Homo sapiens: one gene and its partners. The protein of the gene in region 4 interacts with the protein of the main gene of each other region in a pairwise test. Each region holds a gene or a part of one and is shown on either strand. Other genes may lie near its edges.

Region 1 (7,035 bases), on a different chromosome or scaffold from region 4:
GAAAAAGAAAGTCTTAAGTTTTGAAGTGAAATTACTTAAAAGACTTATGTTCTAAATTTCTAAAATTTTTCATAATTTCCACAGAAGCCTCCCCCATTTGCCTATGTCTTCTAATTAACCTTGCTTTCCTCTCATTAAATAAAATTCTTTTGTATTCATTTTTATTGGTTTTACATTGTTTAATTACTAGTGTTGTTCTGTATTTCAAATTCTAAAGTTTAGTGTTAACTGCAAATACAAATAAATAAAATAAAAAATAAATATTCAATTACGGGTTAAATTGGAGTTTGTTGGCTATTCTGAAAATATTCTAATTTTTAAACACAACTTGTCTAAAATCTTAATTTTTCCTTTAATTTCTAGAATTTATGAATTATGATAAGTAAGATATGATAGAGGTAAGTTCAAAACTGTATCTTTTTCTCACAAATATCAAAAGGTCTGAGAACAAAGTCATGAAGTTTGAATATATATAAGAATAAAGATATCTGAGTACATCGGCTTAGACTAGGTTTATTATTTTTGAACTGTAAACTCCAGTAACCCCCGGTTTCTGAGAACTACTGCATTTCTTACCTTTTTTCTGCTTTATCAGCTCCTGGTGTGCCAGATTTCTCTCATTTGTTTCATTCTCTAAGGCCTTCTTATACTGTGCTGCTTCTCTGGAAAGAATGTTCAGGTTATCTTCAGCTTGTGTTCTCTCCAGCTCTAAACGATGAATTTTTTCCTGAAGAGTTTTTAAGGCTAAAATAAGAGCTGTTGAAAAAAAATTTTGTTGATATTTTAAGTGAAAGTTTCTGAACACTTACAATCAAAGTAACATAAGAAAAATAAGCAGTATATTTTTGTTACTGAGCCAGAAAAATGTACAAGTAATGCATATTCTTCAAAAAATGAAAAATAATGACTAACACTTTGAAGAGGCGCACATTTTCTCTCTAATATATCTTGTAAAAACACTATATCTATTATTGTATTTAGTGGTTTCTAAGACTGAGAAAGGTAATAACCACAATTTTAATTTAATAAAATATTTACAAATGAAAGGACTTAAAGACAATGTACAGTCTGGGGAGCATAAGAGTATAAATATGAATAAGAACATTAAAATATAATTTCTACTAATTAACATGGCAATTTAGGTTTAAAGTTATAGGCTTTTTTTCTCAGTTCTTGAGGTATTCCGTTTTAGTCAAATCACACATATTTACTGTTTCTTTGTCCATGATGCAGTATTAAGAACCAGGATAATTATAACCTAATGGTTTACCTGATGTCAGACCTGAAAGATAATAGTATTCTATACTACTGTGACTTATATTCAACTATATTAATATCTTCATGCTTCAGATAAGTTCAGAGTTTTAACTGTCATATAGTTTATATCAAATTAGAAAGATGCTTGCTAGAGATTACCATTTTGTTTTTATAAATGAGATAAATAAATTATATTTATTCCTCTTTACATGATATCTGTAGCTGGCACATTGATTTGCATTATTATTTCTTATAGTTTATTCCACAAAACTAGTTTATTTATTAACAGCAACCATTATTATAGAAGATTTTAAAAGTAGGTGATATCAGCATCTCAGAAAAGAATTTGCACAGCTTAAAATATGCCTGGAGTAATAAAATGTTTTCCTAATTCAATTTTAAGATCCTCCTACATTTCTATTTTAAACGTTAAAATACTAGTATTTTGTAGTTACTCTGATATACTGGCTTCCTAAAATATTTTCAAGAATAATTTTGGATATATGTAATTTCTGAATCTAATTCTTGAATAAGATGCAATTCCATTTAATTCACTAACATTCTAATCATCTAGTTTAGTATTCCAAATCTGACCTTTTATTCTTCAAAGAGTATTTTCCTGTTTTCAAATGATGTTTTTATGATAACTCTGTGATATGTGTCCAGCTGGTTGTATTAATCTTCATTTTATGGCTGAAGAAGCCAAAATAAAAAATGTCAAGTAATTTGTCTAAGTTCATAGAAACTTTTAGCAACAGAATCAAAGTTAGGAGTTTTGTTAAGATTAAATATGCAATCATATTGTATTCCACATAAATATGAAAAGTTTTTTATAGCATGTTTTTACCATTCTTCAAATTTTATATCAGCATTACCTTGGCTATTTGGGCTATGAAGTATCTTAGGAGAGGTAACTTCTAAGTTTGCAGGATGGCAATTCTGAGATGGTTCATTCTGGGTGAATGAGGGAACAAATACTCTTTCTGGAGGTTTATGATAGCTTCCTACTATACTATGCATTAATTCAGAATCCATTATCTGTAGAGAATAAAGGAATGATATAGTATCATGCTTTCCTATTTTAAGGGTAAATGCATTATACAAAAATTCAGGTGAAACTTTAAAAACATAATCATATACTGTGGAGTTGTATCTTTATGAACTTAATTATAAATTCAACTCTAATAGGCTTGGCAATAAAAGAAAGAAAAGTTACTATTTCTTGTGTAAGCAGTACTGACAATTCTGCCTGATTTTCAATAATCATATACCCTGGAGTAAGCATCACATGAGTGATTTGAATTTACTGGTTTCTCAGTTACCCATAAATCCCATATACCTATCATAGTCTGAGCACTTCTCTATAAGCAGTGTGACTCTAGGATTTAAAGAGAAAGTACATATTCTAAAAGATAACTGAGCTTTTAAACACAAACCAACAATATACACTGATTCTCTAATACTGATTGTTGAATTCTAATGTATGGCTTCCTAAGGGATTTTCAAGGGTAATTTTGGATATATGAAATATCGGAATTTAACCTTTGAATAAGACACACCTCTGCTTAATGTATTAGCATTTTAATCATCTAGATTAGAAAGTTTCCAAATCTGAAGAATCTAGACTACTTAGTTTTGTTAGTCTGGTTTTTATTTTGTTGTTGTTTTTGTTTTGGTAAGAGAGCCCTTTTAACCATTTAAGCAGGTAATTTTTGGTCTAAAATTTCCAAATAATTTTATTTTCCTTTCTGCAATTTAAATATTTTAGAAATGTATTCTATTTTTTAATAGATTCCAGTCAATGTTAATTAAATTAATTCATAATCACATAAGGTGATAACTGCTTACAAAAAAATAACTCACTGGAAGAATTTTAAGCAAGAAAGCTTGCTTCAAAATGGAAATCCAAGAATTACACTATAACATTAGCCTATTTTGATTTTTGAGAGTTGTACATTTTCCATGATTTCACCACCTCCTCAATTCACAAGGCAAAGGCAGGCACTTCCCAGGATAGTATTTTCTGGAAGGGCAGAAGGCACACTTCACTTCCTAGAATTTTCTACTTTAGCCATTGCCATGATTGGCAATCTCCTAGAACATTCTGATTGGTCTAAATTAGAGGCTATAAAGCCTAAGGTTTGCTAAGATACTTGATGCTTTTTGTTCTTGCAAGGTAACCATATTTTGCTATTGTGATTAGTACCAGCTATCTCAGACACTGCCTGCTCCCCATGGGATACCGCATCTATCTAAGTTGTTGTTCCCTCAAAAAACAAGAGATCAACATTAGTCACAGCTGGCTCACTATAAAGTGGAGGTAAGGCCCTAAAGTACGTAAATCCTGAAGATGGTTGTACATCTTCAGAGAGAGGTAAGTTGTTAAAGCTATCCCAAGAATACTGGAGCTACTCAAGAAATCTGACTTAGTTTTCAGCTCCGGGTGGGTTTCTCCAATGACATAAAGAATGAAATTTTGCTATTTGTCACTACACACTGAAGTCCTTGGGAGGTCTCTGCTTCCTCTGACCTAAGTATAATATTATTTCACAAACCGGATTTTGTACCAGTTAAAAAACTGGTCCAAATTTGAGGTTTTTAATGTATATGAAATAATGACTAGTTAGAAGATTGCCAGTAAGTTAAAAAGTAGACTACAGTTTATTTAAATTAAATGTGTAGACACATATTAAAGTGGGCACAAGCAGAATAATCCACTGATAGGATAAAAACAAGATGAAGAAAAAGAAAGAAAACAGTAAAGAGATGAGAGGACAAGTTATGTTGTGACACAGAGCTCAGAGATTCTCATTGTAATGGGATCTCAGCTTAACCTTTATAATCTGGTCCTGTGTTGTAAACAAGTGCATAAGCCTACTGGAAGCTTATTTATATAAAGCACTGAAGCATCCTGGGAGAAAAACTCACTCTGAAAGAAGGTGAAGTAACTACAAAAGGCTTGATCCAAAATAAAAGCCTTAAATGACTAAGGAAAGGAGGAGTGATTCTGAGTAGACTATGATGGTGGTCATTCTAATTTATCTCTGACCTAGTGCCATGGACTCATATGTGGGTTCTAAAAAGAGAGAGAGTTTAAATAAAAACTGAGAAATGTTTCACCAATATCTCTATAAAATATCAAGGCATTAGCTTCCCTGCTTTGTGTAAGATGTTACATGACAATGGAGGGGGAGTCAGATTGCTAACACAGTTTTGGCCCCTTTCTGGTGCATCAGTTAGTAGTATTCAGTGAGAGAGAGAGAGAGAGAGAGAGAGAGAGAGAGAGAGAGAGAGAGAGAGAGAGAGAGAGCAAGAGAGACAGTGAACAAGAGTGAGAAAGCGAGAGAGCAACAGAGAAACAGAGAGAGCACAGATGGAAGGGATACATTCATGGGCACATATGAGAAATATTTCTAGGGAAAAATTTCTGAAAATACAGAGAAGTACCTAAATCACAATCTCTAGGATTCCGGTATTTCTGATACCAGACTTAGCTAGCTGTTGGTAACTGAAAAGACCTCAGGAATTCTTATGGAACATTTTATAGGTGTCTTCAAGTAAGGGCAAAAGGCTATAAAATGTGAACCTCATTTGTATCAAGCCTGAGAAACTCAAGTTGTACCTTTTTTTTTTTTCTTAAAATTTTTATTTATTTTTTCTTTATTTATTCTAACAACAAACAAACAAAAAATGGAATACATGTGCAGAACGTGCAGGTTTGTTACATAGGTATACATGTGCCATATTAGTTTGCTGCACCTATTGACTCGTCCTCTAAGTTCCCTCCCCTTACCACCCACAGGCCCTGGTGTATGTTGTTCCCCTCTCTGTGTCCAGGTGTTCTCAATGTTCAACTCCCACTTATGAGTGAGAACATGCAGTGTTTGGTTTTCTGTTCCTGTGTTAGGTTGCCAAGGATGATGGCTTCCAGCTCCATCCATGTCTCTGCCAAGGACATGATCTCATTCCTTTTTATGGCTGCATAGTATTCCATGGAATATATGTACCACATTTTCTTTATCTAGTCTATCATTGATGGGCATTTGGGTTGGTTTTCCTGAAACCATTCTTGACAGCTTGTGAACAACCAGGGAAATTACTCACTGTTTTTATGGTTTATAAAATTAAGATACCCCAATTGGCTGCAACTAAGAACCCATTGCATAAAAAAACTATCCCCCTAAAAAGAATGCTCTAGACACAAACACTTTACTGCAAAGCATTTTTACTTTTTATAGAGGAAAACACTTATTCCATAGGACTGCTAGGGAGACGACATTAGGGGGCAGTCAGAGATACTATAGAAGACTTTTGAAATAAAGGAATCTCTGTTTGCTGTAACTGCTACTTCTTCCAAGTTTGGATTTTTCCTTAGAGAAACTGAAGAAGGATCAACAGCTCAGTTTCTTTGATCTGTTTTTTTCTTTATGTATGCATCTATGCTAACTTACCTTAAGAGCAAACACAGTAAGGCTGGACTAACTCTTTTATTTTTTAATGTATAGTACTTTAGGAAGTACTATAACTTATTATATCTTATTATTATCTTATTATAACTGAATAAGATAATTTGTGGTGGTGGAACTTACTTATAGATATCCCATAATAATTATATAATGTATTATTTATAATATAAAATCACCAAAATGTTAAGATGTGACAATAAAAACTGGTCAATAGAAACTAGTAAATACACGAATGTAACATAAATACTTCAATGGGATTCAGCTATTCATTTGTTGATCATCCAATAAATGATGTTAGAAAAATTGGGGAAACACTTTGGGAGGGAGAGGTGGGCGGATCATGAGGTCAGGAGTTCGAGACCAACCTGGCCAACAGTGAAACCCTGTCACTACTAAAAATACAAAAAATTAGCCAGGCGTGGTGGTGGATGCCTGTAATCCTAGCTACTTGGGAGGCTGAGGCAGAAGAATCACTTGAACCTGGGAGGTGGAGGCTGCAGTGAGCCGAGATTGCGCCACTACACACTAGCACAGGCAACAATGTGAGACTGTGTCTCAAAAACAAAAGAAAAAAATGGGGAAAAAATCCATTTAAGGCTTCATCTTGCCCCATACATCAATACAAATTTCAGATAGCTACAGAGTCAAATAAAGAAAACGCAGCTGGGCGCGGTGGCTCATGTCTGTAATCCCAGCACTTTGGGAGGCCGAGGCGGGCGGATTACGAGGTCAGGAGATCGAGACCATCTTGGCCAACATGGTGAAACCTCATCTCTACTAAAAACACAAAAAATTAGCCGGGTGTGGTGGTGGGCGCCCGTAGTCCCAGCTACTCAGGAGGCTGAGGCAGGAGAATGGCGTCAACCCGGGAGGCGGAGCTTGCAGTGAGCCGAGATCGCACCGCTGCACTCCAGCCTGGGCAACAGAGCGAGAATCCATCTAAATAAATAAATAAATAAAAAACTCTAAAAATTATTTTAAGAAATCAGTGAATATTAAATAACCTTAGAATAGGTAAGATATTCTATGTTTAAAAGTAACAGAAAAATAAAGGAAAAGATACAAAAGCTCTGTTAAAATTAATACAACATATAAGGCCGGGCGCGGTGGCTCACCTCTAATCCTAGCACTTTGAGGGGCTGAGGCAGGCGGATCACGAGGTCAGGAGTTCGAGACCAGCCTGGCCAGCATGGTGAAACCCCGTCTCTCTTAAAAATACAAAAATTAGCCAGGCATGGTGGCGCACACCTGTAGACCCAGCTACTCGGGTGGCTGAGGCAGGAGAATCACTTGAACTCGGGAGGCGGACGTT
Region 2 (7,035 bases), on a different chromosome or scaffold from region 4:
CACTTCCCACTTGATCTAGGCTTTGGCTCTGGTTACCTTTTTGCTCTCGGAAAGTCTGAGGGGGTTATTTTCTTCGGGACTTTCAAGGGAAGAGTCGGCGTCATCCTCCTCCTCTTCACTGTCTTCTTCCTTCTCCTCTTCCTCTTTGTCCTCTTCATTTTCCTCCTGATCTTCTGTGGATTTAGCTTCCTCAGGATCTGCTGGCTCAGCAACTAGCTCATCCCCACACTGCTCCTTTGCTTCCTCTTTCACTTGCTTTTTTTCCTCCTCCATCTCCTCTTTCTTTTCCTCCTCTTTTGCTAGTCCATCTAATTTCCTCTGGCTGGCCTTGTAGTACAGCACTACCTCCAGACTCTGTGGGGTGGGAGTAGGGCAGGATGGCGGCTGCGTTACCTGTGAAGCTCCTAATCTCATGACAATGCTGTACTAGCTCCAGGAAACATGACTTCCAGCATGTCAGAGTGCAAGGGTGTGGCCCGGTGCTCTGGGACTGTGAGCCAATCCCCTGAGCATATGTAGAGGGCATCACACCTCACCTCTCAGGGCCACTATGTCTGTTGGCCATTAAGCCATTTCAAACAGCTACCACAACTAAAGAGTCTTGGGCTCTGCACCTAAATTGTTGCTTCCCACCCCTACAGTGACTCTTCTTTTACCCAATCCTCTTTCACTTATTAGTACATAACTACTTTGAACAAATTCCTCCCTCTTCATCTATTTGGTTCTTCTCTTGGGCATGTAACCCAGGAAGAACAGGAGCCCCAACAAATGGGGCTGGGCAAACTGAAGGAGTTGTCCAGCCTAGGGGCTGTGGTCCTTTGGGGCTGCACCTCCCGATGTGAGTTGTCTGTGTTCCACTCTCCCCATAACTTCACAGGAAAAGGGAGCACCCACTTTCCATTAAGATGGGAACCACTGTAGACACTTCAGAGATCCCAGAAGCTTCTCTACAAATCCCTTGCCTGGTTGAAAGGGTTGTGGAGGCAATGCTTCTTCCCAGGATCTCCTCCTCCTTTCTGCTTATCTGGCTACCAAGGTTACTACTCACCTTTCTGGTCTCAAGGTCGCTCTCAGAAGTATCCGAGCATGGCTTGGTCACCTTTTTCATTTTAACCCCATTGGCATTCTTGTTCATGTTCTTATTAGCATTCTTCCCCCGGGCTTCTTTGACAACAGAAGGCCTCTTCTCCCTGAGCTGGCGGAGCTCCTCCTGGCAGCACTGCAGCTGCCCCTCCAGCTGCTCCTGCACTACCAGAAGCCGCCCCTGCTCATCCATGCTAGCCTGGTATTGCAGCTGCAGCTCCCGCAGCTTGGTCTGCAGTTCTTTGATCTGTTGGTAGTGGAGGGCCAGTTACCCAGAGTTGGCTGGTTATGCAACCAGTTGGCTGACCACGCAACCAAACTCAGCCCTGCTTGGGGGTCACTGTCTCAGAAATCTCCCTGTTAAAGCCCATAGGAAGTAGACAATAAAGAAAATATTCAACGGTGGAAAATGAGCCTCTCAAATAGTTTTACAAATAGCTTCTCCTAACTTGAGGCACCTGATGATGTCCATCTAATAAGATGAAAAAAACGGCAGGGCGCAGCGGCTCACTTGCCATCCAGTGTAATCCCAGCACTTCAAGAGGCTGAGGTGGGCAGATCACTTGAGGTCAGGAGTTCGAGACCAGCCTGGCCAACATGGTGAAACCCCATGTCTACTAAAAATACAAACATTCGCTGGGCTTATTGGAGCGCGCCTGTAGTCCCAGAAACTTGGGAAGCTGAAACAGGAGAATCACTTGAACCCAGGAGGCGGAGGTTGCAGGAAGCTGAGATCGTGCCACTGCACTCCAGCCTGGTGACAGAGCAAGACTCTGTCTCAAAAAAAAAAAAGAAGGTCAAAACAATGATTTAAATGGTGTTTTCTACTGTGACTGGGGAATAACAATAGGGCTGCTACCAATTCTGAACCTCAGGGATTTATTATATAATTCTTTTTTTTGAGACAAGAGTTTCACTCTTGTTGCCCAGGCTGGAGTGCAATGGCATGATCTTGGCTCACCGCAACCTCCGCCTCCTGGATTCAAGCGGTTTTCCTGCCTCAGCCTCTTGAGTAGCTGGCATTACAGGCATGCGCCACCATGCCCAGCTAATTTTGTGTATTTTTAGTAGAGATGGGGTTTCTCCAAGTTGGCCAGGCTGGTCTCAAACTCCTGACCTCAAGTGATCCACCCGCCTCGGCCTCCCAAAGTGCTGAGATTACAGGGGTGAGCCACCGCACCTGGCCTAGAATTCTTTTTATGGGAACTCCTACTTCATCCAACCCATCTCTCTAACAGGAACAATTACTTAAAGAACTGTGTTGTACACTCCTGAAGTGTGTACTGGGCTCCTGCACCTCACCCTGGAAACAGAGGCAAGTCACATCCTGCTCCCTGATCTCGGGTTTTGTCTTCCTTGGCTGATGGCAGCACACAACCATCCCCTCAGTAGGTACCAATACTAGCCAATCTGGACCCATGTGTTCGCTGCTCTCTGAATCTCTCCCGTGTGTATACAAAGAGACCCCCACTGGACCGTGAACCCCTGGCCAGAGACAAGACTTCTGTCCCATTCCTAGGGGGTGCAGAGCACTCTTCTTGGCATTGTGAGCGATCCAAAAGGAGACATGTCCCTGTCCTTGAGCTGCTTGCAATCTAGTTGGTGCTCCTAGTTGGTGCACCGGGAGACAAGGCAAATGCACACAAAATGATGAAAGAAGATTGGCAAATGCAAAAATACAGTTCTACAGAAGTGGTCTAGAACACAAAGCAAAAGAGAACAGAAGTGGCAAAGGGAGAAAGAGAGAAATCATTCGATGAGAGAAGTCCTGATGACTAGTAAACCCCAGCTCCACGGGCACTTGGGAAATGTCATCAGGGATGGAGCAGACTGCCCAGCCTCTGAGGTGCATATTCTCCCTGCTTTGTCCCTCTCTTTAGCCTCTATGAAGTGGCCATGACCTCTATGGCTCCAGGGGCTGCCAGAGGAAACCCTGCCTCCCTGACAGTGGTTACCTCATTCTTGTCGTTCTGGGGGGCCATGGGCTTTTCAAGGCATTCCATGCACTCCTTGAACTCCCTTTCACAGGCATCCAGCTCTTCCTTCAGGTCTTTCTGCTTGGCCAGTAACTTTTCCATCTGCTCTTGCAGCTGGCTGTGTTCCTCCTGGCTTATCTGGTACATGGCCTGCACCGCCTGCAGCTTGATCAGCACTTTCACAACCATTTCCTCAAAGCGCTGCGGGGGGTGGGGGAGCAACAATAGCACCCTGAGGAGCACCTAAGCTCCGCCCTACTCTGCTGGGCCCTTCCCTGGATACCAAACAATGGCCACCAGGATCCAGAGATGCCCGCGGGGGATTACTATATTTACCCCCATAAAGAGCATCGTGGCTGTGGTGAGGAAACGGACTGAATCTTATGGGCCTCTGTCCAGATGGGGGATTCTCTCTATGAGAGGGCTGAGCGGGAGACCAGGCTGCCATGGGTAGAGGGCTTCGCTTACTTCCAATAGTTCCCCAGGTCAGTTCTGACCCCATTCCCACACTTCTTGCCCCTTCCCCTGGCGATGTATCTCTTAAAAAGACAAGAGTCCATCGTCCCCTGCCTGACCTGTCACCTGGCAACCATTACCTCCATGTCTTCAGGCTCAGCAGGTTCCTCGTCAGTGCAGCTGCTGACAAAACTCTTCTGGCAGGTGTCAGAGCTACTGGTGCTGCCGTAACTCTTCTTATAGGTAATGCTGCTGTTGCTGGTAGTGCAGTAACTCTTCCCATAGGCCTCACTGGCACTGGTGCTGCTGTCATAGCTCTTGAGAAAGCTCTTGCTGCTGGTCTGGGTGCTGGTGTAACTCTTGTAATAGCTCTCATTGTCATCCACAGTGGTATCATAAGTCTTGCGACAGTTCTCATTGCTGGGGACCATGCTACCATAGCTCTTCCCGTAGGACTCAAGGCTCATTTTTATAGAAGGGGACTGGACTTGAAGCAGCTGCATTTCTTCCAGGCAGAGCTGCAAGTCTGCCTGCAGCCTCTTCCGCTCCTCTAGGAGCCTCCCTTGCTCTTGCTGCAAGAGCTCCTGCTTCGCCTGACCGGCGTCATACATCACCTGCAGGGCCTGCATCTGCTCCATGAGCAGCTTGGATTGCTGGGGGCAGGGGTGGGGAGACAGTATCATTACTCTGACACTTCAGTCCTTCCAGCTGCACCTCTCCTGGTACAGATGTCTGAGAGCACACCTTAGAGAATGGCACACCTACATTTCCACCTCACCCCGGCCTATGTCTCTGACTTAGCCTATAGGTAACTGGCATGTATCAGTTTCTTGCTCATTTGGGAAAATCTCCCCAGGGCAGATACTCCATGATTTCCGGGCTCCCATTTCGGCTGGTTTCTGCACTTTGGTACATCCCTGTCTCCTTGGAGCAGTGCCGAGTGGGTTTCCAGAACACCCTGGCTCCCTACCACACCCTCTTCTCAGTCAGGTATACCTGTTATCCTGACCTTCAGGCTCAGTCCCCTCGCCCACCCCTAGTTCTAAAATCAGCCCCGGCCTTGAATGCGGCAATATGAAGAATTGGAATCAAAGTCTTACTATTAGTTCCTGTATCTCCTGCCCCAATTCTGAATCTGGCCTCTGGGCATGTTGGGCCTGGCTTCTTGGCTGCTGATGTCCAGGATGAGATCTGATCAGTTAAGGAAATATTTTATACCTGGTTCCCAGCTGTGTTACCCAGGCCTCCAGCCTGGACATCTGATGCCCCTGGAATATGATCCAGCCTCACAGTGTTGACTTCTGCTACTCCCTGGTTCTCCTTGTTCAGAATAAGATCTGAATGAATAGATTTGGCCTAAACCGAAACTGTCTACCTGCCCCTCCTTGCCCACGCTGAGACCTCAGAACAACTTTATCCCCCAACCCTGAAGAGAATTGTATGGTGATCTCCACCTGTGTCACCTCATCTGAATGACCTCTTGCTGGTACTTGAGAGGCATCAATTTTCTGGTCTAACCCCTGTGACCTTGCTCTGTTACTGCCACCAAAGTTCCAATGAAGATAGTGTGGTCAGTACTAAGAACCCCATATGCTAGGAATTCTTCTCTTGGAAATGAAAGGCCCCAAATTTGCCTCATAGAGAACACCAAAGGTGATAGATTTTGATAACTGAGAAGTGTACTTTTCCACTCAAGAAAAAGATGACATTTAGAGTCAGTCCAAAGGAATCCAAACAAACACCAAACTGATATTATACATCTTACTGGGAATGAGTCGAATGATCTGATGACAGACTTCTGGTCATCCCAGCTCTGCCCTGAGTGCTCATAGTGCTTCAACTGGGCACTGTGAATATCAGTGTGATAAAGGATAATGGCATCTAGGTGAGGTCCTCAGGCCGTATCTAAAAGCCACCTCTTAATGGAGCCTGTGAGTGGTCACAGCTGGTGAAAGGCAGGGCTTTTGCCTTATCCTTACCCCTGGCCAAACACGCCTTCCCAACTCTGACCCTTCGGCGGTGCCCACTCTCTCTGCCATGCTGTTGTGCTCAGGAGAACTGTCTCCCTACCTCTTGCTATGGTTACCTTGTTTCGATTACATTTGGAGGACTTAGCCAATTTGGAATCATCGGGATTCTCCAACACTTCCTGGAAATGAGACTCTTTGAAACGTCGCAGCTCTTCGTGGATCTCTAATTGTTCTTTTAATACACAGTCTTGGTTCTGTATCAGCTTCTTCTGTTCCTCCTGCATGCCTTGGTAGAGCAGCTGCAGCTCACACAGGTCTTCTAACTTGGTGAGTAGCTCCTGACTCTGAGGCGGAGTAGAAGGAAGGAGGCAAGGGATGGTGGTGGTCACACAGGAAGTCTGATGCCTCCTTGGTGCCTCATCCCCGTTGTGAACAATTCCCTGAAGAATCTCAGGGTTGACTTCACAGAGCCCATCTGGGGACGGGGGAGCCCTTCTATGGAGACCTGCTAAAAGTGGCAGTGGTCTCTTGTGTTGGGATATATTTTGTAGTTTACAAAGTGGCTTCAGGTGCATTTTCTCCAGATGGACTAAATACCTAAATATAAACTGCTGCACAGATTCCTGAGTATAAAAGGTATTTTAAGATTTAAAGCCCTTATAAGAAAAACTCTAATTGGCTCTATGGAGCTTTTTGGTTTGGGGAGAGTGGTGAGAAAGTAAGGAGTGGTTGGTAAGAGAAAAAGTTCAATCCCCACCCTTTTATTTTTCCCTAGTCACACAGGGAAGCTTCTCAGAGCAGCTTCCCCGCAGTTAGCAGCTGCCTGTGGCAGAGTTACCTTGAGTAAGAGGCCACTCTTTGGCAGTGGCAGTGTGAGCCTGTGCAGCTCTTCCTGCAGCTGGCCCTGCTCCTCCTGCATCCTCCTCTGATCCTCCAGGAGCTCACACTGCTCCATCTGCAGCTGCCCCATCTCCTTCTGGCTGGCCTTGTACTTTTCCTGCAATTCTGTCAGTCTGGACAGCAGTGTGTCACACTGTGGGTGGGGGCGGGTGTGGAGGGGGTGGTTACTCTGTAAGGTAAGCTTCTTGGGTGGCTAACAGAGCACTTCTGCGCTCTCCTGCCTCTTGTGATCCTCTCCCTGTGCAGTCACCTTGGACTGGTCACCCCAAGCCACAATGCATTCTGGCTGTTTAGATACCGATTGGGGATCCCCTGCAGGCTGCTCCTTCAGAGCAGGTTGCTCTAGACTGGTGGCTGGCCTTGCTCTAAACTTCCACCATTCCTTTCTGGGGGCAGTTTGATGGGGAATGCTATCGATGCCCCTTTCTCATTTCCCCCTTCCTCTTCTCCGGCCCTTTCCTTTATACACCATATTCCCACCCTGTTGGGAACTCTTAGCTCCTGTTATTCTCATTAACCCCAGTTGTTTTTTAATGCAACTACACTCCTTACAAATAAGGACTTAATTTCACCCTAATTTTTCCCATTTTTGCTTTCCTAATTCTCTCTTTAAATCTTTAGAAAGTATGCGCTATTGGTAAATTTGGGTT
Region 3 (7,035 bases), on a different chromosome or scaffold from region 4:
TCAGAGGAGGATTTGAGCTACAGCAGCATCAAAGCCAGGCTTCAGGCTCTAGAATAGGCTTGAAGGGCAGGGGCTGCCTGTTCCCTGCCTGTCTCTTGCCCTGCCCAGCCCCCACTGCTCCACCAGGGCAGCTCAGCAACCTCCCCTGCCTTTCCCCCCAGTTCCCTTCTGGGGGTGGGGGGAATTCCCATCCAGGCCTTTTAGAAGGGCTGAAACATTCAATGTAAATAATTAATGCTAGATTTTTAAAATTAAATTTTAATACATTCTTATTAATTTTAGACAAACTCCCTGGCAGGTCATTCGCCGTGAGTGATTGAGGTTGGCAACCAGAGACAGCCTTTGGGTGGGAAAGGCTCCTGAGCAGTGGGGTCCAGGCGCAGCTGGGCCCCTTCAGCTGCGGGATCTCCAGCAAGCCTCTTCTCTGTTGGAGCTTTGCTCCCGCATAGGGGGTCCGGGGCTTCCATGGCAGAGCTGTGGTGAGGAGCCGTGGGAAGCGCTATGATGTGTAAGGGGCGGTGGACGTTATTGTTATGACTACCGTGGCCATTCTGCTGAGGGTGGCCTCCCAGGACCGGAGGGGGGCGGAGGGGGTTTTCCTCATTAGCCCCTGGAGAGCAGAGCTTGCTTCCTCTGCTGTCCCCTCTCTGCTTTGTCTGCTGTCCCCTCTCTGCTGGAGAACTTAGCCCAGAGCTAGTGAACGAGTGGGTGTCCGTGGATGGAGGAACACTTGGATTTCTTGGGTTTGGTTTGATCCTGGTTCAGGTCTGACCCTCTGAGTGGACGGCTCCTCCCACCCTGCGCTGGCTCAGCGCAGGCCAAGCCTGCTGGGTGCTGGGGGTGTCCTGGTGAGAACACAGGGCTCCTGCCCGGGAGCTCACAGCCAGGAGGGGAAAGGGCCAGGAAAGACAGGCTCCAGTGCCGTAGGATCCAGGCATGCACTGTCCGTGTTTATTGAGCGCCTGCTGTATGCTGGGACCTAGCATGAGAAGCGCTGTCATGGGGACCCGGAAAGGTGGGCCTGGGGAAGAGAGCGGTGTGGGGGTCGCGCTGGCCGGCGGCAAAGTCTTCCCGGCAAACTCCTTGTCTTGCAGGAGGAGGGTTTATGGAGGGGTCCAGGCTTGTGGTCTTGGACAACTTTTAGAGCGTCTGGGGAGGGGAACCGCCATCCGGGCGCCTTAGGGATCCCTTCCCCTGAAATTCCTTCCCCCACCCCAGCCGATCCGCAGCCCGCGGGTGCGGAAGGGCAGTGGAGCGCCTCGTCCAGCTGCCTCCCCCTTCCCCCCAGCTTTCAGGTGAGGAAACTGAGGCCGGGAGAGCGCCGGAAGGCCGGCCCGAGCACCCGGGAAGTTGGTGGCCGAGCCTGGCCGAGGCCCCGGGGCCGGGCCTTCTAGCTTGGCGCTGCGGCCGGGCTGCGCCCTCGCCCGGCGGGGCGGTGGGGGAGGCGGCGTGGGGCCCGGACCCGAGCGGAGCGCGCTCCCGGCGGACGCGGCGGCGGCGCCCGGCGCGAGGGGCCGGGATGGGCAGTCATCAGTCTTCCCAGGTCTGTCGCGTGGTCCCTGAGCTCGGACCCCTGTCCCCCTTGAGTGCCAGTCACGGCACAGAAAGACGGGCAAAGCCCCGGGGAGCGGCCTCTCCCGGGTGATAGAGAGCCCGCCCGGCGCCCCCAGCTCCACGCAGGAAGTGCGATCCCGCCCGGGCCGCTCGCGGTCCCCGTCGCTCGCCCGCGCCCACAAGGTTAACGGCGGCGGGTGGGTCCCCCTGCCCGGCGCGCGGAGGGGCTGCCCGGCTGAGCGGGGCTGGGCAGGGAGGGTCTCCAAGCCGCGCGCGGGCGGGTCTGCGCAAGCAAGGCAGGGAGCCCCGCCGGCGAGCCGGGCGCTCACGGGTTAATCCCTGGGGCCCGGGAGGGGCAAGCCAGGCCCAAAACCCCAGAATCTGAGGGCAGCGGGTCCCTGATTGAGGAGTCGAGGCTCCAAATGCCATCGCCCTCGGATTGTGTGAGTGTCAGGTTCTGCAATCCTGCACGGCCCCGAATTCCCCAACATTCTCCGACTCGGAGGTTCTGCGATTCCGGGGTTCGGCTTCCTCCGGGAGGGAGCGCGGGGCAGGAAGGGTTAACGGGCGGGGCGGGGGGAGCAGCGGGGCCGCGGCCGCCGGAGAGTTAACGGGGACAGGCCGAGTCCCCCTCCTCCGGGCGAGGCCGAGATCGCCCCTGGCCGGGCCATCCCGGGCCGGCCCCTTCTTCGCCCCGGGGGGCGTAACTCGGTGCGGGGAGCGCGGCGGCCCGGGCGGGCTCACCTGTTACTCGGCCGCGGCCCGGCGCGCCCACTGAGTCACGGGGGCCGCGGCCGGGACTGGAAGCTGGGGACGCGCGGCGCCGGGCTTCCCACGGACGGGGCCCCGCGGGGTTGCCCGGCCGTGCCCGCTGTGCCCGGCTCTGCCCGGCGCGGCCGCGGAGCGCACGCCTCCTGCCTGCTGACCCTCTCGTTTGGTTTCTCGCAGGCCTCTGCCGCAGACATGGAGAAACTCAGGTGAGTGGAGCGTCTCCCGTGCCGCGGCTCGCGGGGGCCGGGTCGGGGGTGAGGGCGCTGGGGAAGGCGGGGGAAGGGGGCTCCACCCGAGCGCATCCCCCAGGGCCCGCGGGCGGCCTCGGCGGGGCTGCGGGCCAGGTGCGTGTGTGTGGTGCGTGTGTGCGCGCCGCGAGGCGCTGGGGAGCCTCGCGCGGGGCTCCTCCGCCGGCCCGGGCCGCTGCGGCGGGGGCTGGGGCTAGCGCCACTGAGGGCCGGGCTGCCCCCTACCCGGGGCCGCCTGGTCCTGTGCGGTCCTCAGCGCCCCTCTGGCTCCCTGCCCTGGACTCTCGCTGGTCCCCGGGGACCCTCCGGGTTCCGTTCGTGCCGTTCCGCACTGCCCCGGCGCTCTCTCCCCCGACCCCACCCCACCCCCAACCACCACCCGCCCCAGCCCCCGGGCTGCCAGTTGCCTGGCTCTGAGCTTTTAAGTGTCCGCCTCTGGGGGGCGGGGGTGGGGGATGGAGTCCTCGCGGCTGGACCAGGCAGCCGCGTCTTGGAGCCATTTTGGGGGAATCCCGCGACAGCTTCTGGGGAGTGTCCCCCGCGGCCTCCCTCCCGGTGCCAAACTTTAAGCCTTGGTAGACTTCACGGGACCACCTGCGCGGCAGGCCTGGGATCAGCCAGTTTGAATATTTGCCACTTCCTCCACGACTTCCCCTGGCACCCTGACCCCTACTTTGGGAACACCCCTCCCGTGTTTTCCTTCCGGAGCCTGAGCCGAGGCGTTGTGTGGGCGGCAGGCCCAGCTCTGGCTGCTGGGTTTCAGCACTGTCTCCCCTGGCCCACAGGGTCTCCGTCCTCGCCACTCCCTCCCGAGGCCAGAATTGGCATCCTGGGGAGGAGGCCGGGTAGAGGAGCATCCCTCCCCCAAGGAGCAGAGCCCAGCCTGGGCCCAGGTCTAGGGCAGAGGGGCCCTGGGCTCTGCCAGCTGACCCTTAGTGCCGTGGGTGAGTGGCTTGGAAACACCCAGGTGGGAGCCTGGGGGCAGGTGGGCTCACACAGAGACCCAGGGTGGACTCTCAGAGCAGGGCCATCTCCTGGGCCATGGAGCTGATGTGCAGCCCCCACTGTGGGTCCCACAGGGACAGGACCAACATGTCTTGTGCTGGGAGGAGGGGTCCAGTCTCTGAGGTGGTTCAATCTCAGACCCCAAATACCTGATACCCATCAGCCAGGCCCACCTTGTCGTGGCCAAGGTCCAGGTGGGGGCGGTGAGGCCCAAAGAGCGACAGCCCTGGCTGTGGTCACACAGATGACCTCAGGCCCAAACTCAGGCTCTGGCCCAGGCCAGGGCCCTTCCCTGGTGCCCCACATTGGCTGTCATTTCACCACCTGGGTTGTACCGCCTGTGGGGGGGAGGAAACACTGCTTAACTCAGCTGAGACTTGAGGAAAAACTTAGCATTCATGGGGTGCCCTGAGGCCAGCCTGGGGGTTCCCTGCGGTGGTTCTCTTTCTCTTTCCCTCCTTCCCTGTGCCCGGCCAAGGCTCTCCGGCACCTATTCCTGTGTGCCAGGCACTGAGGACAGAGGCATGACCCCGCCCGGCTGGGTGCACAGGTAGGCAGGTGTGCCAGGTGGGCGGATCTGCTGCCTGAGCTGCTGATGGCGTCAGCGTTGCTGTCCCAGGCGGGCTGAGGCTTCCCTGGGCTAAGCCATAAAGGCTGGAGGCAGTGGCCAGGGCCTGGGCTCCTGGGCTGCATCGGGCCATGTGGCCTTTCTGGAGTTGCCAGGGGTGGCGTGGGGCAAGGACTCCTAGAACTGGGGAGGGGTCCTGCCCTCCTCTCCCTCTCACCCAATTAGTGTTCTCAGAGTTGCCTGAAGGGCTTTTCCAGAATCTTCCCTTCTGGCCAGTGTCGGGGCTGCCCCAGTGGGTTTCTGTCCTGCATTTGGTGCCTGGGATTCAGAACCAAAAGCCCAGGGGAGTGGAAGGGAAGTTGGTCAGCATGGCTTCCTGCACAGAAGGGCACAGGGTTTGGGGTCCCACAGACCCAGTCACTGACAAAGTCCTGGCCCTGGTTGGGCCTCAGTTTTCTCATCTGTAAAGTGGGTGTCCTAACCACAACCAGGTTGCAGGGATGTTGGGTGCCGTGAGCCCCTGTGGTGGAAGCATCTCTCCTGGGACCTGGCCCAGAGCAGGCCCAGGTAGAGGGTCTCTGGGGAACCTCAGACCACACGGTGGTCACAGTGAAGGGGTCCTGAAGTGTCCACAGGGATGACCCTATGGTCGGTCCTGCCTCCTGGCCCCTGGACTGTGGAGTCTGCACATCACAGGCTGGGTCTGTGGGTCTGGATTGAGCTCTGAGAGTGCTGGTCCTGGCCCCCTCCTCTCCCACACCCCCCAGGGCCTGGAGCCAGGACTGACTTATGGGACAGTCCTGTAAATATTTGCTGAAGAGCAAAAGGACCATGTCACCTGGTGGCACTGTGGCCCTCAATGGCTCCCTTTGGTGGGCAGGTGTACATTGAGGGGTCTCTCTTCCCTGGTCCCTCCCACTGGCTGCCCCCCCATGCTGTCGCCCTGCTTCCGAGTTCCCCACAAGCTGCCACCTTCATGCCCCTGCCTTTGCCCACGCAGTCCCTGCTGTAGAGAATGCCCTTCCCTGCCTTCTTGTCCACATGACAAACTCTGTGTCTTCCCTGTCGCCTTTTCCCTGGGGTTTTCATGACGCTCTTGCCCCTCCCTCCCAAGTGGACTCCAGCCCCCTCTGGGTACCAGCTCTGTGAAAAGACCCGGTTGGCCCTCCAGTGCCGGGGACAGAGGCCCACAACAGATCCTCCTAGGCCAGCGGACAGAATACAGAAGGGGTTTGCCCACAATGCTCTGGGGTCCCAGGTTGTGAACCCTGGCCTGGGGTATTGGGAAGAGCTTCCGGGAAGCAGGGACACTTGAGCCAAGGCATGAAGAATGGGTAGGAGTTTCCAAGGACAGACAGGCCACCCTCCAAGAGGTGCAAAGGCCTGGGGGCTGCCCAGAGCAGATGTGTTTAGGGAAGACAGGTAAGGGGTGGGGAGTGGAGGTCAGTGGGGCTCCCACTGACATCTGGGGTGTCTTCTGTCTTCCCCAGGGCCCCAGATGGGCACCCCAGAGAACAGAGCCGGGGTCTGGCCCCTGGTGTTCTGACAGCCACAGTGCCTGGCAGAGGCTGGCGCACAGTAGGGCTCCCACAGGCCGGGGGGCCACATGGTAGATATGCAGCCACACCATTTGATGGCCTGGCCACCTTGGCTCTTGTCCTTTGACCCTTGCTCAGCCACACTCAGCTATCTTGTCTTCGACTGCTTGGAAAAACTATTCTTGTGACTCTCAAATATTTATAGATATTACCAAGTCCCGGCTGGCTCTCCGTGTGCTCAGAGCCTCTGTGCCTCTAATCCCTCAAATTAATCCCCTCCTCTCCCTCCAAACAGGGTCCCTCCTGCCTGCCTCCTGCAGCGTGCTGCTGGGCAGCCCCTTTTTCTATTTGAGCTTCGGTTCCCTCCTCTGTCAAACAGAGAAGTGGGTCAGTCGCCTCTCATGGCTCCTGGGGTGCCCAGAGCTACTCCTGTTTGGTGTCCACGTTTTCCCCCCAAAATAGAATTTTTCAAAGTCGTGAACTGTGATAGGCCTGCAGAGACATTAATAAATATCCGCACAGTTCAGTGGTTAAGTTTAGAACGACCACCTGGCGACCACCACCTGTGTCAAGGAGTTCAACATGGCCAACCCCCGAGATCCCCCGAGACCCTTCCCCACAGACAGCCCCATCCTGCTCCCGGCCAGCCCCTAAGATCCCCCGAGACCCTTCCCCACAGACAGCCCCATCCTACTCCAAGCAGTCACCGGGACACCGACCTTGTGCTCAGTGGTTCCTTGCTGTCCTCGTGGTTCTGCCACCTGAGAGGGCATCCCCAGCAGAGATGGTTGTATGTTGCCTGCTTTGGGACCTCATACCTGGATTCCTTCAGCCTGTGTTTTGGGGGTGGCTTTTTTTCACCAAAACTATTCTGTTTGTGAGGGTCCCTTGTGGTGGTAGGTGGAGCTACCAGTTGCTGTTGTCATGGTGGCTTCCCTGAAATCCGTTTGTTCCCTGGCAGACTGCCGGGCACTGTGCAGCCTGGGCCACCTTAGGAAACTCCTGTGCGGGTGTCTGGGGATGTGGGCTGCGATTCTGGGTGTGCACCCTCAGTGGAACCTCCGGGGCACAGGGTGCGCATAGGGTCAGCTCTGGAAGATCGGAACAGACTCTTGAAACCGCTTCTCCCCATCACTGTCCCTCCAGCGTTGTTGGGGTGGGCTGCCCTGGTTTGCTGCCCGCTGGGTTTCCTCACCGGCGAAGGCCGTGCGCATTTTCTACCAAGGTGTTTTTCCCATTGATTTGTGGGAGCTCTTCACACTGTCAGTTACACATGCAGCAGCCACACCTCCTGGGGGACGCCGCGTCTCGCTGTTCACACGGTCCTTCTATGAACAAAAGTTCTTAATTT
Region 4 (3,630 bases):
GTTATTTCCTCTCTTCCACTGCAATTTAGAATTTACTTCTCTGGCAGAGATTTGGAATATGGTTAGAATATTTGTTTATTCTTGCAGGAGATACAAGTATGAATAATTTGGAAACTGTTCACCACAATAATTCTAAGGCAGATAAACTTAAAGAGAAACCTTCAGAATGGTCTAAAAGACATAGACCACAACATTATAAGCATGAGGATGCAAAAGAAATGCCACTGACATGGGTTCAAGATGAGATTTGGTGTCATGATTCCTATGAGAGTGATGGCAAGTCAGAGAATTGGGGAAATTTTATAGCTAAAGAGGAGGAAAAACCCAATCACCAGGAATGGGACTCAGGAGAACATACCAATGCCTGTGTCCAGCAGAATTCATCCTTTGTAGACAGACCCTATAAATGTTCCGAATGTTGGAAAAGCTTCAGTAATAGTTCTCATTTGCGTACTCACCAGAGGACCCACTCAGGAGAAAAGCCTTATAAATGCTCTGAGTGTGCAAAATGTTTTTGTAACAGTTCTCACCTGATTCAGCATCTAAGAATGCACACAGGAGAGAAGCCCTACCAGTGTGGTGAATGTGGGAAAAGCTTCAGCAATACCTCCCATCTTATTATCCATGAGAGAACTCACACGGGAGAGAAACCCTACAAATGTCCCGAGTGTGGGAAGAGATTCAGCAGCAGCTCTCACCTTATTCAGCATCACAGATCACATACAGGTGAAAAACCATATGAATGTTCTGTCTGCGGAAAAGGCTTCAGTCACAGCTATGTCCTAATAGAACATCAGAGGACTCACACTGGAGAAAAACCTTATAAGTGCCCTGATTGTGGGAAGAGTTTTAGTCAGAGTTCCAGCCTCATTCGCCACCAGCGGACACACACAGGTGAGAAGCCCTACAAATGTCTTGAGTGTGAAAAAAGCTTTGGTTGTAATTCTACTCTAATAAAACATCAGAGAATACATACAGGAGAAAAGCCTTATCAATGTCCAGAATGTGGGAAGAATTTTAGTCGTAGTTCAAACCTTATTACACACCAGAAAATGCACACAGGAGAGAAATCCTATGAAAGTTCTGAATATGAGGAAAGTTTGGGTCAGAACTGCAATGTGATAGAAGAATGCAGAATCCAGTTAGGAGAGAAACCATATAGATGTTGTGAATGTGGGAAGAGTTTTGGCCTTAGCTCCCATCTCATTAGACATCAGAGAACACATACAGGAGAAAAACCTTACAGATGTTCTGAGTGCTGGAAAACTTTCAGTCAGAGTTCCACCCTGGTGATTCACCAAAGGACACATACAGGAGAGAAACCTTATAAATGTCCTGATTGTGGTGAAAGCTTCAGTCAGAGCTTTAACCTTATCAGGCACCGGAGGACCCACATAGGGGAAAAACCTTACAAATGTACCAGCTGTGAGAAATGCTTCAGCAGAAGTGCCTACCTCAGTCAGCATCGGAAAATTCACGTAGAAAAGCCTTTTGAGTCTCCCGACGTTGGGGATTTTCCTCATGAATGGACTTGGAAAAACTGTTCAGGGGAAATGCCCTTCATCTCTTCATTTTCCGTCTCAAATTCATCTTCCTGAGTCCCAAAGCCTGGTTGGTGATGGTTTTTTCTTCCTTGTTGGACCATGACAATTTAGGTATTCTGTGATTGTTGTGCTATAAAGTTTCTTTGATGTGTTTGTCAAAACATTTGGAAAAAGTCAACCTCCCAGTTTAAAGGATGGGAAGACCCCAATCACCAGGTTATTGGATCTGTCCAGTGAGAGATTCATCCACCAAGGATGAAGAAAGGAGGACTTTTAAAAATTTAAGGTAAGATAGTAATAGCTTCAAAAGAACACATACAGAGTAATCCTGAGAGTAAGCAAAGGAACCATGAGAACCGAAGCTAGAATTGCTATTGAATTACTTTATTTTCTCTTCCCTTATTGGGTAGAGATACATCATTACTGGCCTCAGGGGTTTACCCAAAGAAAGGGTATTTTTGAGCAAATAATGTGATTTCCTGGCTATTTTGTTGGGGGCTTAAGATTTTTTTTTTTCAAATGCATTTTTAGTCACTAAAAATTAACTGTCGTACCATCTAGAACTATACTGTCCAGTACCATAGCCTCTAGCCGTATGTAGCTATTTGTATTAAGATTAATTGAAATTTTAAATCCAGTTCCTCAGTCACACTAGCCACTTTCTAAGTGCTCAGTAGCTCTGTGTGACCAGCGGCTACTGTATTGGATATTATAGAAGGTTCTTTCATTCAAGATCATCATTCTTGACAGACCCATAAATATTTCCTATAAAGACTGTAGAAGTGTGTTCTGGAGGGTTTGCTCTCCAAAAAGAATTGTAATATAGAGTAGAATTGGGATAGAGTATTGAAGACACTGGGTTTAGACATTGGATATTTTAATGATTGTGTGTTCTAATTCATGTGCTGCCAACTGAGTTATCTAGTGATATGACCTCACTGTCTTGACCAAAGCCAGAATAGAAGGCAGGATTCCTGAATTCTATCTTAAAATTTGCAATGAAGAGCCTTTTCCCTAAATTATCCCATTATGTAATTCTTGGTCAGCTCAAGAACTGGGTTCTTTTTCTAATAATTAACTCACTAAATCTGAGCCAGTGTCCAAGGACAGTTTGTCATTAAGGAGTACTGAGACTTCTTAGCTTTGGTACTGACAGTTTTCTTTTGCCTCTTGACATAATTGGTATATGGATCTGATAACTGAGGTCCCATCTTCCCTACTCATTCCTATGGGAATGATGCTTTGGAAATTATTAGATATATCCTATTCCCTTCCTCCCATTTTTTTCCTGCTAGTGCAAAAGGTAGATGAGTAGGAAGATTAGGACTCCTGAGTTGCCCATGATTTCATCTAATTTTTGGATTCAGAATGTATTTTATGAATAATATGCAGAGATGCATATTAGGAATGTGAAGCCAGAATGGGTCAGTTGTAGCTGCTGCAAAGTTCTGTAGCTGATGGTCATTTAATTGCATGGGGGTTATTTTATCTTTCATGATTGTGGTGCACCTGATGCTGGCGGGGTATTTGTGTGTTTTTGTATTGTTATTTGATTACAAAAATAAAGCAAAAACTAACAAATAAAGGTATTGGAGAATTTGGGGGAAATTTTCTGCTTTCAAAAAAGGGGGAAAACATTAGGCATTATTGGCTTTTTATTTTTATTTTTTTCTTATTCATTATTATTATTTTTTTTTTTGAGACGGAGTCTCACTCTGTCGCCCAGGCTGGAGTGCAGTAGTGCGATCTTGGCTCACTGCAAGCTCTGCCTCCCGGGTTCATGCCATTCTCCTGCCTCAGCCTCCCGAGTAGCTGGGACTACAGGTGCCTGCCACCACGCCTAGCTAATTTTTTGTGTTTTTAGTAGAGATGGGGTTTCACCGTGTTAGCCAGGATGGTCTCGATCTCCTGACCTCATGATCCAGCTGCCTTGGCCTCCCAAAGTGTTGGGATTACAGGCGTGAGCCACTGCGCCCGGCCCTTATTAATTGTTTAAGAGATAAGGTCTCACACTGTCACCCAGACTGTAGTGCACTAGCACCATCATAGCTGACTGCACCCTCAGACCCCTGGGCTCAAGGGATCT

What was found.
Region 1: the proteins of ZNF572 (region 4) and CEP57L1 interact in binary tests that used the Homo sapiens proteins (3 or more experiments, as listed by UniProt).
Region 2: the proteins of ZNF572 (region 4) and CCDC136 interact in binary tests that used the Homo sapiens proteins (3 or more experiments, as listed by UniProt).
Region 3: the proteins of ZNF572 (region 4) and BEGAIN interact in binary tests that used the Homo sapiens proteins (3 or more experiments, as listed by UniProt).

Annotation. Positions count from the first base shown.
Region 1 is NC_000006.12:109,140,479-109,147,513, reverse strand, and holds part of CEP57L1 (centrosomal protein CEP57L1), read right to left. Parts: exon of another isoform or gene 6,839-7,035; intron 2,296-6,838; 5' UTR 2,293-2,295; coding exon 2,133-2,292; intron 757-2,132; coding exon 577-756; intron 1-576. UniProt on the Homo sapiens protein: Centrosomal protein which may be required for microtubule attachment to centrosomes.
Region 2 is NC_000007.14:128,808,933-128,815,967, reverse strand, and holds part of CCDC136 (coiled-coil domain-containing protein 136), read right to left. Parts: intron 6,519-7,035; coding exon 6,324-6,518; intron 5,830-6,323; coding exon 5,602-5,829; intron 4,707-5,601; coding exon of another isoform or gene 4,616-4,706; intron 4,169-4,615; coding exon 3,656-4,168; intron 3,261-3,655; coding exon 3,039-3,260; intron 1,331-3,038; coding exon 1,049-1,330; intron 355-1,048; coding exon 37-354; intron 1-36. UniProt on the Homo sapiens protein: May play a role in acrosome formation in spermatogenesis and in fertilization.
Region 3 is NC_000014.9:100,563,407-100,570,441, reverse strand, and holds part of BEGAIN (brain-enriched guanylate kinase-associated protein), read left to right. Parts: intron 1-649; exon of another isoform or gene 650-1,295; intron 1,296-1,464; exon of another isoform or gene 1,465-1,519; coding exon of another isoform or gene 1,520-1,543; exon of another isoform or gene 1,544-1,751; intron 1,752-1,948; exon of another isoform or gene 1,949-1,976; coding exon of another isoform or gene 1,977-1,997; intron 1,998-2,140; exon of another isoform or gene 2,141-2,502; coding exon 2,503-2,531; intron 2,532-3,358; exon of another isoform or gene 3,359-3,517; intron 3,518-7,035. UniProt on the Homo sapiens protein: May sustain the structure of the postsynaptic density (PSD).
Region 4 is NC_000008.11:124,976,261-124,979,890, forward strand, and holds the end of ZNF572 (zinc finger protein 572), read left to right. Parts: intron 1-87; coding exon 88-1,598; 3' UTR 1,599-3,129; downstream 3,130-3,630. UniProt on the Homo sapiens protein: May be involved in transcriptional regulation.